Linked DNA regions of Homo sapiens: regions 1 and 3 are each linked to region 2. The links come from fine-mapping of genetic effects on gene expression. A gene starts in region 2. Each other region holds a variant in brackets. All regions are shown on one strand. Distances are from middle to middle.

Region 1 (5,229 bases), 710 kb after region 2:
AGACAGAAGCATTCTCAGAAACTTCTTTGTGATGTGCGCATTCAACTCACAGAGTTGAACCTTTCTCTTGATAGAGCAGTTTTGAAACACTCTTTTTGTAGAATCTGTAAGGGGACATTTGAGCGCTTTGAAGACTATGGTGAAAAAAGAAATATCTTCACATAAAAACTACACAGAAGCATTCTCAGAAAATTCTTTGTGATATTTGCTTTCACCTCACAGAGTTTAACTTTCCTTTTCATAGAGCAGTTTTGAAAAACTCTTTTTGTAGAATTTGCAAGTGGATATTTGGACCGATATGAGGCCTTCGTTGGAAACGGGATATCTTCACAAAAACTAGACAAAAGCATTTCCAGAAATTTCTTTGTGATGTGTGCATTCAACTCACAGAATTGTACCTTTCTTTTTATAGAGCAGATTTGAAACACTCTTTTTGTAGAATCTGCAAGTGGACATTTGTAGCGCTTTTAGGCCTATGGTGAAAAAGGAAATGTCTTCACAAAAAACTAGACAGAAGAATTCTCAGAAACTTCATTGTGATGTGTGCATTCAACTCACAGAGTTGAACCTCTCTTTTCATAGAGCAGTAATGGAACACTCTTGTAGAATCTGCAAGTGGACCTTTGGAGCGCTTTGAGGCCTGTGGTGAAAAAGAAAATATGTTCATATAATACTACACAGAATCATTCTCAGAAACTTCTTTGAGATGTTTGCTTTCAACTCACAGAGTAGAACATTCCTTTTCATAGAGCAGTTTTGAAACACTCTTTTTGTAGAATTTGCAAGTGGATATTTGGAACGCTTTGAGGCCTTCTTTGGAAATCTGATATCTTCACAAAAACTGGACAGAAGCATTCTCAGAAAATTCTTTGCGATATGTGAACTCAACTTACAGAGTTGAACCGTTCTTTTGATAGAGGAGCTTAGAAACACTCTTTTTATGGAATATGCAAGTGGACATTTGGAGCGCTTTGAGGCCCATGGAGAAAAAGGAAATATCTTCACATAAAAACTACAAAGAAGCATTCTCAGAAACTTCTTTGAGATGTTTGCTTTCCACTCACAGAGTTGAACATTCCTTTTCATAGAGCAGTTTTGAAACAACCTTTTAGTAGAATTTGCAAGTGGATATTTGGAACACTTTGAGGCCTTCTTTGGAAACGGGATATCTTCACAAAAACTAGACAAAAGAATTCCCAGAAACTTCTTTGTGATTTGTGCATTCAACTCTTTTTTTTTATAGAGCAGTTTAGAAACACTCTTTTTGTGGCATCTGCAACTGGATTTTGGAGTGCTTTGAGGCCTAAAGTGAAAAAGGAAATATCTTTACCTAAAAGCTAGACAGAAGCATTCTCAGAAACTTCTTTGTGATGTGTGCATTCAACTCTCAGAGTTGAATATTACTTTTCATAGAGCAGTTTTGAAACACTCTTTTTGTAGAATCTGCAAGAGGACATTTGGAGCACTTGGAGGCCTATGGTGAAAAAGGAAATATCTTCACATAAAAACTAGACAGAAGCATTCTCAGAAACTTCTTTATGATGTGTGCACTCAACTCGCAGAGGTGAACCTTTCTTTTGATAGAACAGTTTTGAAACTCTTTTTTTATGGAATCTGCAAGTGGACATTTGAAGAGCTTTGTGGCCTTCGTTGGAAACTGGAATATCTTCACATAAAAACTAGACAGAAGCATTCTCAGAAACATCTTTGTGATGTATGCATTCAACTCACAGAGTTGAACATTCCTTTTCATAGAGCAGTTTTGAAACACTTTTTTTTTTTAGTATGTGCCAGTGGACATTTGGAGCGCTCTGAGGCCTTTGTTGAAAAAAGAAATATCTTCACATAAAAACTAGACAGAAGCATTCTCAGAAACTTCTTTTTGATGTGTGTACCCACCTCACAGAGTTGAACATTTCTTTTGATTGAGAAGTTTTGAAACACTCTTTTTGTAGAATCTACAACTGGACATTTGGAGTGCTTTGAGGCCTATGGTGAAAAAGGAAATATCTTCACATAAAAACTACCCAGAAGCATTCTCAGAAACTTCTTTGTGTTGTTTGCTTTCAACTCACAGAGTTGAACATTCCTTTTCATAGAGCAGTTTTGAAACACTCTTTTTGTAGAATTTGCAAGAGGATATTTGGATCGCTTTTAG[G/A]CCTTCATTGGAAACTAGACAAAAGCATTCTCTTCACAAAAACTAGACAGAAGCATTCTCAGAAACTTCTTTGTGATGTGTGCATTCAACTTTTTCTTTTGATAGAGCACTTTTAAAACTCTCTTTTTGTAGAATTTGCAAGTGGACATTTAGATCTCTCTGAGGTCTACGGTGAAAAAGGAAATATCTTCACATAAAAACTTCACAGAAGCATTTTCAGAAACTTCTTTGGATGTGTGCATTCAACTCACAGAGTTGAACCTTTCTTTTGTTAGAGCAGTTTTGAAACACTCTTTTTGGACAATCCGCAAGTGGACATTTGGAGCGCTTTGAAGCCTGTGGTGAAAAAGCAAATATCTTTACATAAAACTAGACAGAAGCTTGCTCACAAACTTCTTTGTGATGCGTGCATTCCACTCACAGAGTTGAAACTTTCTTTTGATAGAGCAGTTTTGAAAAACTCTTTTTGTAGCATCTGTAATTGTTCATTTGGAGCGCTTTGAGGCCTACTGTGGAAGAAGAAATATCTTCACATAAAAACTTGACAGAATCATTCTCAGAAACTTCTTTGTGATGTGTGCATTCAACTCACGGAGTTAAACTTTCCTTTTGAGAGAGCAGATTTGAAACACTCTTTTTGTAGTATCTGCATGTGTATATTTGAGCGATTTGAGGCTTATGGTGATAAAGGGAATATCCTCACATAAAAACTAAACAGAAACATTCACAGGAACTTTTTGTGATGTGTGCATTCAACTAACAGAGTTGAAGCTTTCTTTTGATAGAGCAGTTTTGAAGCACTCCTTTTGCAGAATCTGCTAGTAGATATTTGGAGATTTTTCAGGCCTTCGTTGGAAACGGGAATATCTTCACATAAAAACTATACAGAAGCATTCTCAGAAAGTACTTTATGATGTGTGAATTCAACTCACAGAATCGAACCTTTCTTTCGATAGAGCAGTTTTGAAACACTCCTTTTGTAGGATCTGCTAGTGGTTATTTGGATTTCTTTTAGGACTTTGTTAGAAACGGGAATTTCTTCACATAAAAACTAGACAGAAACATTCTCAGTAACTGCTTTGTGATGCATGCATTCAACTCACATAGTTGAACCTTTCTTTTGATAGAGCAGCTTTGAAACACTGTTTTTGTAGAATCTGCAAGTGGACATTTGTAGCGCTTTGAGGCCTATGGTGAAAAAGCAAATATCTTCACATGAAAACTGGACAGAAGCATTCTCAGAAACTTCTTTGTGATGTGTGCATTGAACTCACGGAGTTGAACATTTCTTTTGATAGAGCAGTTTTGAAACAATCTTTTTGAAGTATCTGCAACTGGACATTTGGAGGGCTTTGAGGCCTATGGTGAAAAACGAAATATCTTCACATAAAAACTACACAGAAGCATTCTCAGAAACATCTTTGTGTTGATTGCTTTCAACTAATAGAGTTGAACATTCCTATTCTTAGAGCACTTTTGAAACACTCTTTTTGTAGGGTTTGCAAGTGGATATTTGGACCACTTTGAGGCCTTTGATGGAAACGGGATATTTCACAAAAACTAGACAGAAGCATTCTCAGAAACTTCTTTGTGATGTGTGCATTCAACTCACACGGCTGAACATTTCTTTTGATATAGCAGTTTTGAAACACTCTTTTTGTAGCATCTGCAAGTGGACATTTGTAGCGCTTTGAGGCGTATGGGGAAAAAAGAAATATCTTCACATAAAAACAATACAGGAGCATTCTCAGAAAATTCTTTGTGATGTGGGCATTCAACTCACAGAGTTGAACCTTTCTTTTGAAAGAGCAGTTTTCATACACTCTTTATGTAGAATCTGCGTGTGGACATTTTGAGCGCTTTGAGGCCTGTGGTGAAGAAGGATGTATCTTCACATAAAAACTACAAAGAAGCCTTCTCAGAAAATACTTTGTGATGTTTGCTTTCAACTCACAGAGTTGAACATTCCTTTTAATAGAGCAGTTGTGAAACACTCTTTTTGTGATATTTCCAAGTGGATATTTGGAACACTTTGAGGCCTTCGTTGCAAAAGCGATATCTTCACAAAAACTATACAGAAGCATTCTCAGAAACTTCTTTGTGATGTATGCACTCAACTAACCCAGTTGAACCTTTCTTTTGATAGAGCAGTTTTGAAACACTCTTTTTGTAGAATCTGCTTATGGATATTTGGAGATTTTTGTAGCCTAAACGGGAATATCTTCACATAAAAACTAGACAGAAGCATTCTCAGAAAGTTCTTTGTGATGAGTGCTTTCAACTCAGAGAGTTGAACCATTCTTTAGATAGAGCAGTTTTGAAACACTCCACTTGTAGAATCTGCAAGTGGATATTTGGATCTCTCTGAGGCCTTCGTTGGAAACAGGAATATCTTCACTTAGAAACTAGACAGAAGCATTCTCAGAAACTGCCTAGTGATGTGTGCATGCAACACACAGAGTTGGACTTTAGTTAGAGTAGTTTTGAAACACTCTTTTTGTAGAATCTGCAAGTGGACATTTGTTGCGCTTTGAGGTCTATGGTGAGAAAGCAAATATCTTCACATAAAAACTAGACCGAAGCATTCTGAGAAACTTCTTTGTGATGTGTGCATTCAACTCACAGAGTTGATCATTTCTTTTAATAGAGCAGTTTTGAAACAATATTTTTGAAGTATCTGCAAATGGACATTTGAAGAGCTTTGAGGCCTATGGTGAAAAACTATATATCTTCACATAAAAACTGCACAGAAGCATTCTAAGAAACTTATTTCTGTTGTTTGCTTTAAACTCACAGAGTTGAACATTCCTTTTCTTAGAGCACTTTTGAAACACTCTTTTTGTAGAATTTGCAAGTGGATATTTTGGAACATTTTGAGGCCTTCGTTGCAAACGGGATATCTTCCCAAAAACTAGACAGAAGCATTCTCAGAAACTACTTTGTCATGTGTGCACTCAACTCACCCAGTTGAACCTTTCTTCTGATAGAGCAGTTTTGAAATACACTTTTTGTAGAATCTGCAAATGGACATTTGGAGCGCTTTGAAGCCAATGGTGAAAAAGGAATTCTCT
Region 2 (5,229 bases):
CATCACTGGTCATTAGAGAAATGCAAATCAAAACCACAATGAGATACCATCTCACATCAGTTAGAATGGTAATTATTAAAAAGCAAGGAAACAACAGATGCTGGAGAGGCTGTGGAGGAATAGGAACGCTTTTACACTGTTGGTGGGAGTGTAAATTAGTTCAACCATTGTGGAAGACAGTGTGGCGATTCCTCAAGGATCTAGAACCAGAAATAACATTTGACCCGGTGATCCCATTACTGGGTATATACCCAAAGGACTATAAATCATTCTACTATAAAGACACATAAACGTGTATGTTTATTGCAGCACTATTTACAATAGCAAAGACTTGGAACCAACCCAAATGCCCATCACGGATAGACTGAATAAAGAAAATGTGGTACAGATACACCATGGAATACTACGTAGCCATAAAAAAGAATGAGTTCATGTCCTTTGCAGGGACATGCATAAAGTGGGAAGCCATCATTCTCAGCAAACTAACACAAGAACAGAAAACCAAACACCGCATGTTCTCACTCATAAGTGGGAGTTGACAATGAGAACACATGGACACAGGGAGGGGAACATCACACACCTCACACATCGGGACCTGTCGGGGCGGGTGGGGGGCAAGAGGAGGGAGAGCATTAGGACAAATACCTAATGTATGTGGGGCTTAAAATCTAGATGACGGGTTGATAGGTGCAGCAAACCATCATGGCACATGTATACCCATGTAACAAACCAGAACGTTCTGCACATGTATCCCAGAACTTAAAGTAAAATAAAATTAAAAAACAAAAACAAAACAAAACAAAAACTTGGCCGGGTGCAGTGGCTCACGCCTGTAATCCCAGAACTTTGGGAGGCCGAGGCAGCTGGATCACCTGAAGGTCAGAAGTTCGAGACCAGCCTGGCCAACATGGTGAAACCCCCATCTCCACTAAAAACACAAAAAATTAGCTGGGCGTGTAATCCCAGCTACTCGGGAGGCTGAGGCAGGAGAATCGCTTGAATCCGGGAGGCAGAGGTTGCAGTGAGCCGAGATGGCGCCATTGCACTCCAGCCTGGGCAACAAGAGTGAAACTTCGTTTCAAAAACAGCAACAACAACAAGAACAACAACAAGAAGAACAAAAACTCTGCTTTTAAAAGTATTTTAAGTCCAGTGTGAAAAACCTAGAAGTCACAGCAAAGGCCGCTAAGAAACTTACCATTACTCATGACCCCTCTTACTACTGACCTTGAAAATCACTTGCCCTTCTCCAAGGCCCCGCCAGCTTCATGGGTCTCTTCCTGAACCTCCTCCCTAGTTCCAGGGCTTGGCCTAAGTCTCACAGAGCAGAAAGAAACGTGGCCACCCTTCCTCACGTGAGTCCTGTGCAAACATACAGCCCCACACAGAGCTCCTAACAATGGGGCATCAGTACCCAGGCACGATCGATGATTATGAACCCAACGCGATCAGAGACTCCCACATGGTGTGTGTGACTGCGCGCACAGGCGGGAGGAAAGGGGCGAATCTGCAAAACGAGTACAACAGATAAAATTCGCAACAGACTTCTACACCCTTTCAATCAACCGTCCCAAGCGCCACGAACGCGGGTCCCGCTCCGTGGGGGGCCGCAGCCACACTGGCAGGAGGGAATCCTGGGCCTCGACCAGACGCCGGCGGCGTCAGGAGAAACGGCCCGCGCTGGGCAGGCGGCGGGCACCGCGTAGCTCATTACCACGGGGGGCCCCGGCCAAGGCCGCCCGCCTCAGGCCGAGCCTTGGGGCTGTGCTGGACCCGGGCCCTCGTTCGCACGGCGCCCGCGCCGCCGCCGTCGGGAAACCGGGTTTTCAAGCGTTCGGCCCAGCGGGCGCTGTATTTTAGGGCGTGACCCCCGCCCCGCCCTCGAGGGCGACCGGAAGAGCAGGCACCACAGCAGATGCGCCGAGTCTGCGCCCCGCACCGCGAGGAGCACCCGAGGCCGCGCTCCCGGAGCCGGGTCTGGTGACTAAGGCGCGGGTCGCGACGCAGGGGCGGCCCCGGACTCTCGACCCCACCAGCCGCCTGAATGTCCCGCCGGACGCCCGGGCCGGCTCACCTGGGAGGCGCCTCCGCCGTCCGCCCGCGCGGGGCCAGGAGCGCGGCACCACCCCCGTACCGCCGGCCGCTCTTTGTGTCTGGAGGCCGCGACGCAACACTCCTCCCGGCCTCGAGGCACCGCCCCCTCGGTGTCCCGGCGCAGTGGGCGAACAGGGGGCGGGGCGAGCGAACGGGAGAGGGGGCGGGTCGGGTCCGGGATTGCGGGGCGGGGTGGGGGCAAGGCGGCCTCCGCAAATCTCAGGGCGGCTCTGGCCAGTTTGGAGCCTGGGGTGACCCTTGGAGCTGACCTCGCTGGTCCCTGTCGGAGCCCTGCGCGCTGCGGAGCTTGGCGGTTCGCAGCTCTCGGGGTAGCATCTTCTGGAAACAAGCCCGGAGGCCGGCCAGGCAGGGGTAATACCCCAAACCCACCACTGAGGAAACCGCGACTTAAAACCTAGGTCGTCACGTTTCCACCGCATATTAAATCAATACGGGTTGAGCATCCCTAATCCAAACATCTGAAATCCGAAATGCTTCAAAATCTGAAAGTTTTTGAGCGCTGACCTGATGCTCAAAGGAAATGCACATTGGAGCACTTCTTTTTTCTTCTTTTAACTTTCTTTTCTTTTGAGAAAGGCTGTCACTTCTGCTGCCCAGCCTGGGATGCAGTGGCGCGGTCATGGCTCACTACAGCCTCGACTTTCCCGGCTATGGCGATCCTCCCGCCTCAGCGTCCCAACCCCCAGTAGCTGGGACTGCAGGCATCTGCCACCATGTCCGCTAATTTTTGTATTTTTAGCACAGAGTCTCACTGTGTTGCCCAGGCTGGTCTCGAACTCCTAGGCTCAAGGGATGGATCCACCGCCTCGGCCTCCCAAAGTGCTGGGATTACAGGCGTGAGCCACCGCGCCCGGCCTGTATTTTTTTAAGAGAGGAGGCTTCACCATGTTGCCCAGGCTGGTCTGGAATTTCTGGCCTCAAGTGATCCTCCCACCTTGGCCTCCCATAGTGCTGGGATTACTGGCATGAGCCACCGCACCTGGCCTCATTGGAGCATTTCTAATTTTGGATTTTCAGATTAGGGGTGTTCAATTGGTATAATGCAAATATTCCAAAATCTGAAATCCTAAATGCTTCTGGTGCCAAGCATCTCGGTTAAGGGATATTCAACCTGTATATATTTATCGAACACCTACTAGGGCCAGGCATTGTCCTAGGGGCTGCCAACAGCGGTGCAAAAAATCCCTGGCCCTTATAGAGTTTACACAGAAAACAATTTAAAAACGTAAATACCCGGCCGGGCATAGTGGCTCATGCCTGTCATCCCAGCACTTTGGGGGGCTGAGGCAGGCGGATCACCTGAGGTCGGGAGTTCAAGACCAGCCTGACCAACATGGAGAAACCCCGTCTCTACTAAAAATACAAAATTAGCCGGGCGTGATGGCATATGCCTGTAATCCCAGCTACTCAGGAGGCTGAGACAGGAGAATCGCTTGAATCTGGGAGGCGGAGGTTGTGGTTATCAAGCCACTGCACTCCAGCTTGGGCGACAGAGTGAGACTCCATTTCAAAAAAAGAAAAAAAAAAGTAAATACAGCCAGGCACGGTGACTCATGCCTGTAATCCCAGTAGTTTGGGAGGCCACTGTGGGCAGATTGCCTGAGGACAGGAGTTCGAGACCAGCGTGGCCAACATGGTGAAACCCAGTGTCTACTGAAACACAAAAAAATTAGCCAGTTGTGGTTAACGCGCGCCTGTAGTCCCAGCTACTCGTGAGGCTGAGGCACAAGAATTGCATGAACCCAGGAGTCGGAGGTTGCAGTGAGCTGAGATCTTGCCACTAGACTCCAGCTTGGGCGACAGAGCAAGACTCTGTCTCCAAAAAATAAAAATAAAAACATAAATATACAAAAATGTCAGAGAGTTATATCAGAATTACAAAATGAGCTACAGTACACTGTAGCATGAGAAAGGTGCATATACTTTGTAGGAACTCCACTTTAGAGGATGTGAGGATCAGAGGCAAAATGGGGTGAGAAGGAAGCAGGATGAAAGACAGGCTATGGGGGAACGGAGTTTCCAAGGGCGAGTGAAATTTCCAAGTGCCTGCAAGTGCTAAACCCCATGCAGAGCAAAAGGCAAACACAGGGAGTGGTTCAGAGACGCTCATAGTGTGTTCTAGGCTGGGAGGTTTCTCTGACCTGCTGAATGTGCCCAGATACCTTTTGCTATGCCCATGACCTGTCCCAACCAGTGTGGGGCACAATGGCAGGACACACCGTGCAAAGGTGGTCCCTGTGGGATGCGCAGCCAAGACCCCGATGACTCCAGTTTATAACCCTGGATTCCCAGGGGTGCTCAGAGCCATGGGGGCTGCCATTGTGAAGAATGTCTTCTCTTCAGTGCTCCTGATGCTCTGCACGGGCTCCCACTCACTGGCTGGAGAATGAATTTGGAGTCAGAAGATGTGAATCATGCCACTTACTAGCTGTTTGACTGTGGATCACCCAGTCATGTAACATCTGTGATCTCAGTTTCATTTGCAAAATAGAAATGTAAAAATTACCCATTGCACAGGAGTGTACTGAATTTATTTGTTATTTTATTTCTTGAGACAGGATCTCAGTCTGTTACCCAGGCTGGAGTGTGGTGGTGTGATCACAGCTCACTGCAGCCTTGATCTCCTGGGCTCAAGTGATCCTCCCACCTCAGCCTCCCAAATAGCTGCATTACAGATGCACCCCCACACCTGGCTAACTTACTAATTTTTTGTAGAGATGGGGTCTATGTTGCCCAGGCTGGTCTTGAACTCCTGGGCTAAAATGATCCTCCCACTTTGGCCCCCCAAAGTACTGAGATTGCAGGCATGAGGCACCGTGCCCAGTTGAGCATACCGAATTTAAATGAGTTAATGTAGTGGTTCTTCATCAGAGAGAAGTGGGAAGACTAGGAGTTCTCCACTTTGACTACTTAAAAATTAAAAACACCAGTGCCTGCATCCTACCTCCAGACATTCCAATTTTATTGTCGTGTAGAGAAAACTCTCCACTCTCACACCGCACAACAGTCAACACAGAAGACCTATGACTAAATGTGTGTGGGGTTTTCTCCACACACTGAGCAGCAGACACCAGCTGGGCATCCTCTAATTCAGTTCTGTCACTACCTGGAGAG
Region 3 (5,229 bases), 78 kb after region 2:
CCTCTTGGGCTCAAGCGATCCTCTCACTTCAGCCTCCCAAGTAGCTGGGACTACAGGCATGCACCACCACGCCCAGCTAATTTTTATATATGTTTTTTTGTAGAGATGAGGTTTTGCTATGTTGCCCAGGCTGGTCTTGAATTCCTAGGCTCAAGCAATCCTCCTGCCTCAGCTGGGATTACAGGCATGAGCTATTGCATCCAGCCTGCAATTTTTAAAACATCAAAATAAATGTAAAGGCTATGTCTTAGATATATTTTTTTAACCAATTAAAAATAGTAAAATTTTCTCTTATAGCACGGTGGTCATGCCTGTAATCCTAACACTTTGGGAGGCTGAGGTGGGAGGATCACTTGAGCCCAGGAGTTTGAGACCAGCCTGGGCAACATAGGGAGACCCTAGTCTCTACAAAAAATGCAAAAATTAGCCAGGCATGGTGGCATGTGCCTGTAGTCCCAGCTACTTGGGAGGCTGAGGAGGGAGGATCACCTGAGTTTAGGAGGTCAAGGCTGCATGAGCCATGACTGCAGCACTGCACTCCAGCCTGGGTGACAGAGCAAGACCCTGTCTCAAAAAAATAAAAAAGTTTAAAAAGTGTAAGCCAAATTGTGAGTGAATGAGAGAGAGAGAAGTAGGGTGGGGTGGGAGGTGTGTGTGAGTGTCTAGATAAATATTTGATCAGTTTGCAGAAGCAAATGAATTTCATCATCAGGGCAAATTTATTGGAGAAAGTTTTGCCATGGTGAAGGTATTTCCTTGGGATAGGAATGAAGCAGGGAAATACTAATTTGTGCCTCTGGATATTTAAATTATTCAATGACAATCTGTTTAGATGTCTTTGCATAGATAATGCAAATTAGATTGGGAATTGCCAAAATTTGGTGCCTGAACAATGTAATTTTAAAATTTTTTAGATGAGAACATAATTTCTATTTCCAGCTCTATTCAGACACTGAAGAAGACTTAGGTTGGCCAATTCAAGGTCACCTCTTTTTTTCTTTGAGACGGAGTCTCACTCCGTCGCCCCGCTCTGTCTCCCAGGCTGGAGTGCAGTGGTGCAATCTCGGCTCACTGCAAGCTCCGCCTCCTGGGTTCACGCCATTCTCCTGGCTCAGCCTCCCCAGTAGCTGGGACTACAGGCGCCCGCCAACACGCCTGGCTAATTTTTTGTATTTTTAGTAGAGAGGGGGTTTCACCGTGTTAGCCAGGATGGTCTCAATCTCCTGACCTCGTGATCCGCCCACTTCGGCGTCCCGAAGTGCTGGGATTACAGGCGTGAGCCACCGCGCCTGGCCACTTTTTTTTTTGTATTTGTATTTTGCAACTTTGTTGAATTTATTTATTAGTTCTAACAGTTTTTTGTGTGGAATCTTCTACACGTAAGATAATAATTACAAACAGATGATTTTTCTTCCTTTCAAAATTGGATACCTTTTCTTTTTCTTGCCTAATTGCTCTGGCTAGAAATTCCAGTGCTATGTTGAATAGAAGTGATAAAAGTGGACATCCCTGCCTTGTTCCTGCTGTTAGAGGAAAAACTTTTGTCTTTCACCATTAAGAATGATGTTAGCTGTGGGTTTTTATATATGGCCTTTATTATGTTTCCTTTACAGAAACTGCCTTCCCATGACATTTTATTCCTTTTATTCCTAGTTTGTTGAATTTTGTTTTAATCATAAAGAGGTGTTGAATTTTGTCAAATAATTTTCTTGCATCAATGGAGATGTTCATGTGGTTTTCTCCCTTCAATTTGTTAATGCAGTGTATTACATTGATTGATTTTTATATACTCAATTATCCTTGCATTCCAGGAATAAGTCCCACTTGGTCATGGAGTATAATCCTTTTAAATTAAATTAAATTTAATTAATTAATTAATTAATTAATTACTTTGAGACAGGGTCTCGCTTTGTCATCCAGGCTGGAGTGCAGTGGCACCATCTTGGCTCACTGCAACCTCCGCCTTCCAGGTTCAAGTGATTCTCATACCTCAGCCTCCCAAGTAGCTAGAACTATAGGCGCACGCCACCATGCCCAGCTAATTTTTGTATTTTTAGTAGAGATAGGGTTTCGCCATGTTGGCCAGGCTAGTCTCGAACTCCTGAGGTCAAGTGATCTGCCCGCATTGGCCTCCCAAAGTCCTGGGATTACAGGCATGAGCCACTGTGCCCGGTGTAATCCTTTTTAAAAAAGAACATTTTATTGAGGTATAATTTACATACTTTGAAATTTAACCATGGAAAGTATTCAGTTTGATGAGTTTTAGTTTATACAGTTGTGTGATAATCACCATAATTTAGTTTAGAGCACTTCCTTCACTCCCAAAAGTTCACTTTGTAGTCATCTAACCTTCCCACCCCTAGGCAACAACTAATATACTTTCTATTTTTAAGATTTGCCTTTCTGGAAATTTAATAAGTAAACTCATACAATTTGAGGTATTTTATGTCTGGTTTCTTTGCTTAGCATAATAGTTTCCTTTAAAAGTTTTATTGATACATAATAACGACACATATTTATGAAGTACATGTGATATTTGAATGTATACATACGATATGAAATGATTAAATCAGAGTACTTAGTCTATCCATCACCTCAAACGTTTACTGTTTTTGTGTTGGGAACATTTCAAATCTTCTCTTTTAGCTATTATGACATATACAATATATTGGTGTTAACTATAGCCATCCTACTGTGCTATCAAACACTAGAACATATTCCTTCCATCTAACTCTATGTTCCTACCCATTAACCAATGCCTTTTCATTCCCCTAGGCCTGTCCTGTTCCCAATCTGTGGTAACCATTGTTTTACTTTCTACCTCTATGAGATCAACTTTCTTGTCTCCCACATATGAATATGTGATGTTTGTGTTTCTGTGCTTGGCTTATTTCACTTAACGTAATGACCTCCAGTTCCATCCATTTTGGTGTAGAATAACAGGATTTAATTATGTTTTTATGGCTGAATAATATTCCACTGTGTATATATAGGACATTTTATTTATCATTCATCCACTGATGGATACTTAGGTTGATTCCATGTTTTGGCTATTGTGAACAGTGCTACTACAATAAACATCAGGGTGCATGTATTCCTTTGGTATACTGATTTCCTTTTTTTTTTTTTTTTTTGAGGAGTCTCGTTCTGTCACTCAGGCTGGAGTGCAGTGGCG[T/C]GGTCTTGGCTCACTGCAACCTCTGCCTCCCAGGTTCAAATGATTTTCCTGCCTCAGTCTCCCAAGTAGCTGGGATTACAGGTGTGCACCACCACATCTGGCTAATTTTTATATTTTTAGTAGAGACAGGGTTTCACCATGTTGGCCAGGCTGGTCTCGAACTCTTGACCTCAAGTGTTCCACCAGCCTCAGCCTCCCAAAGTGCTGGGATTATAGGCATGAGCCACCACACCCTGCCTGATTTCCTTTCCTTTGGATAAATACCAAGTTTTAAGATTGCTTCATTGTATGGCAGTTCAATTTGTAGTTTTAAAAAGAACCTCCATATCATTTTCCATAATGGCTGTACTAATTTACATTCCCAGCAGCAGTGTATAAGAATTGCCTTTTCTCCACATCTTGCCATTATTTTTTTTTGTCTTTTTTGATAATACCCATCCTAACTGGGGTAAGGGGATCTCTCATTGTAACTTGCATTTCCCTGATGATTAGTGAGGTTGAGCATTTTTCCATATACTTGTTGCCTATTTGTATGTCTGTCTTCTTTTGAGACATGCCTATTCAGATCCCTTGCCACTTTTTAATTAGATTATTTGGGTTTTGTGTCGAGTTGTTTGAGTTCCTTGTATATTCTGTATATTAGTCCCTTACAAGATGAATAGTTTGCAAATATTTTCTTCTATTCTATATGTTGTCTCTTCACTCTGTTGTTTTACTTGCTATGCAGAAGCTTTCTAGTTTCATATAATCCCATTTGTCAATTTTTGGTTTTGTTGGCTGTGATTTTGAGGTCTCCGTCACAAAATCTTAGCCTAGACCAATTCCTGAAGCATTTTCCCTATGTTTGCTTCTAGCAGTTTTATGATTTCAGGTCCTACACTAAGTCTTTAATCTGTTTTTAGCAGATTTTTTTGCATATGGTAAAAGATAGGGGTATAGTTTTATTCTTCTGCATATGGCTGTCCAGTTTTCCTAGTACCATTTATTAGACAGTGTCCTTTACCCAATGTATATTCCTGGTGACTGTTAAAAATCAGTTGGCTGTAAATACATGAATGTTTTTCTGTGCTATTTATTCTCTTCATTGGTTTAGTATATATAGAAAGGATGCCTCCCACTTTGTTCTTTATGCTTACATTGCTTTGGCTATTTTGAGATTTTTTGTGGTTCCTTACAAACTTTAGGAGTATTTTTTCTATTTTTGTGAAGAATGTCATTGGTAGTTTGATAAGGATTGCATTAAATTTGTAGATTGCTCTGGGTAGTATGGTCATCTTAACAACATTAATTCTTTTGCTCCTTAAGCGTGGCATGTCTTTCTGTTTGTGTCCTCATCAATTTTTTTCATCAGTATTTTTTGGTTTTCATTGCCTAGGCCTTTTATCTCTTTGTTAAATTTTTTCCTAGGTATTTAATTTTTTTGTAGCTACTATAGTTGGGATTGCTTTTTTGATTTTTCAACTAGTTCATTATTAGTGTATAGAAATGCTACTGATTTTAGTATGTTGATTTTTGTCTCCTGCAACTTTACTGAATTTGTTTGTTCTAAGTTTTTTGGTGAAGTCTTTAGGATTTTCTATATTTAAGATCATCTTGTCTGTAAAGAGGGATAATTTGCCTTTCTGTTTTCCAATTTGGATGCCTATTTCTTTATCTTGCCTGATTCTAAGACTTCCACTACTATGTTAATAAGAGAGGTGGAAGTAGGCATTTGATTCATGTTTCAGTTCTTGGAGGAAAGGCTTTCAGCTTTCCCCTATTCATTATGATGTTAGCTGTGGGTTTGTAATATGTGGCTTATATTATGTTGAGGTATGTTTTTTCTATGCCTAATTTGTTGACAGTTTTTATCAGGATGGGATGTTAACTTATATAAAATGCTTTTCCTGCATCTATTGAGAGGATCATAGTTTTTGTCTTTCAATCTGTTGATGTGATATATCACATTTATTGATTTGCATATGTTCAACCTCCTTTGCATACCTGAGGTAGATTCCATTGATCATGGTATATTATCTTTTTGATGTGTTGCTAGGTTCAGTTTGCTAGTACTC

Evidence for each region. PIP is the estimated chance that this variant, and not a neighbour inherited with it, causes the effect. A credible set is the group of variants that fine-mapping cannot tell apart.
Region 1: its variant is the best candidate, but not a certain one, in a credible set for the expression of NINL in whole blood (TOPMed, PIP 0.82).
Region 3: its variant is the best candidate, but not a certain one, in a credible set for the expression of NINL in tibial nerve (GTEx, PIP 0.65).

Annotation. Positions count from the first base shown.
Region 1 is chr20:26,291,197-26,296,425 of GRCh38, forward strand. No RefSeq gene overlaps it. Among named protein-coding and RNA genes, the nearest start is that of MIR663AHG, 85 kb to the left of the region's middle. The variant G/A (reference allele first, on the strand shown) is at 2,159.
Region 2 is chr20:25,583,381-25,588,609 of GRCh38, forward strand. It overlaps NINL (ninein like), which reads right to left and starts at 2,151. Exons shown (of 24, transcript NM_025176.6): 1 at 2,075-2,151. RefSeq lists a silencer at 2,086-2,215.
Region 3 is chr20:25,661,848-25,667,076 of GRCh38, forward strand. All of the region lies in intron 2 of ZNF337-AS1 (ZNF337 antisense RNA 1), which reads left to right. Among named protein-coding and RNA genes, the nearest start is that of ZNF337, 32 kb to the right of the region's middle. The variant T/C (reference allele first, on the strand shown) is at 3,176.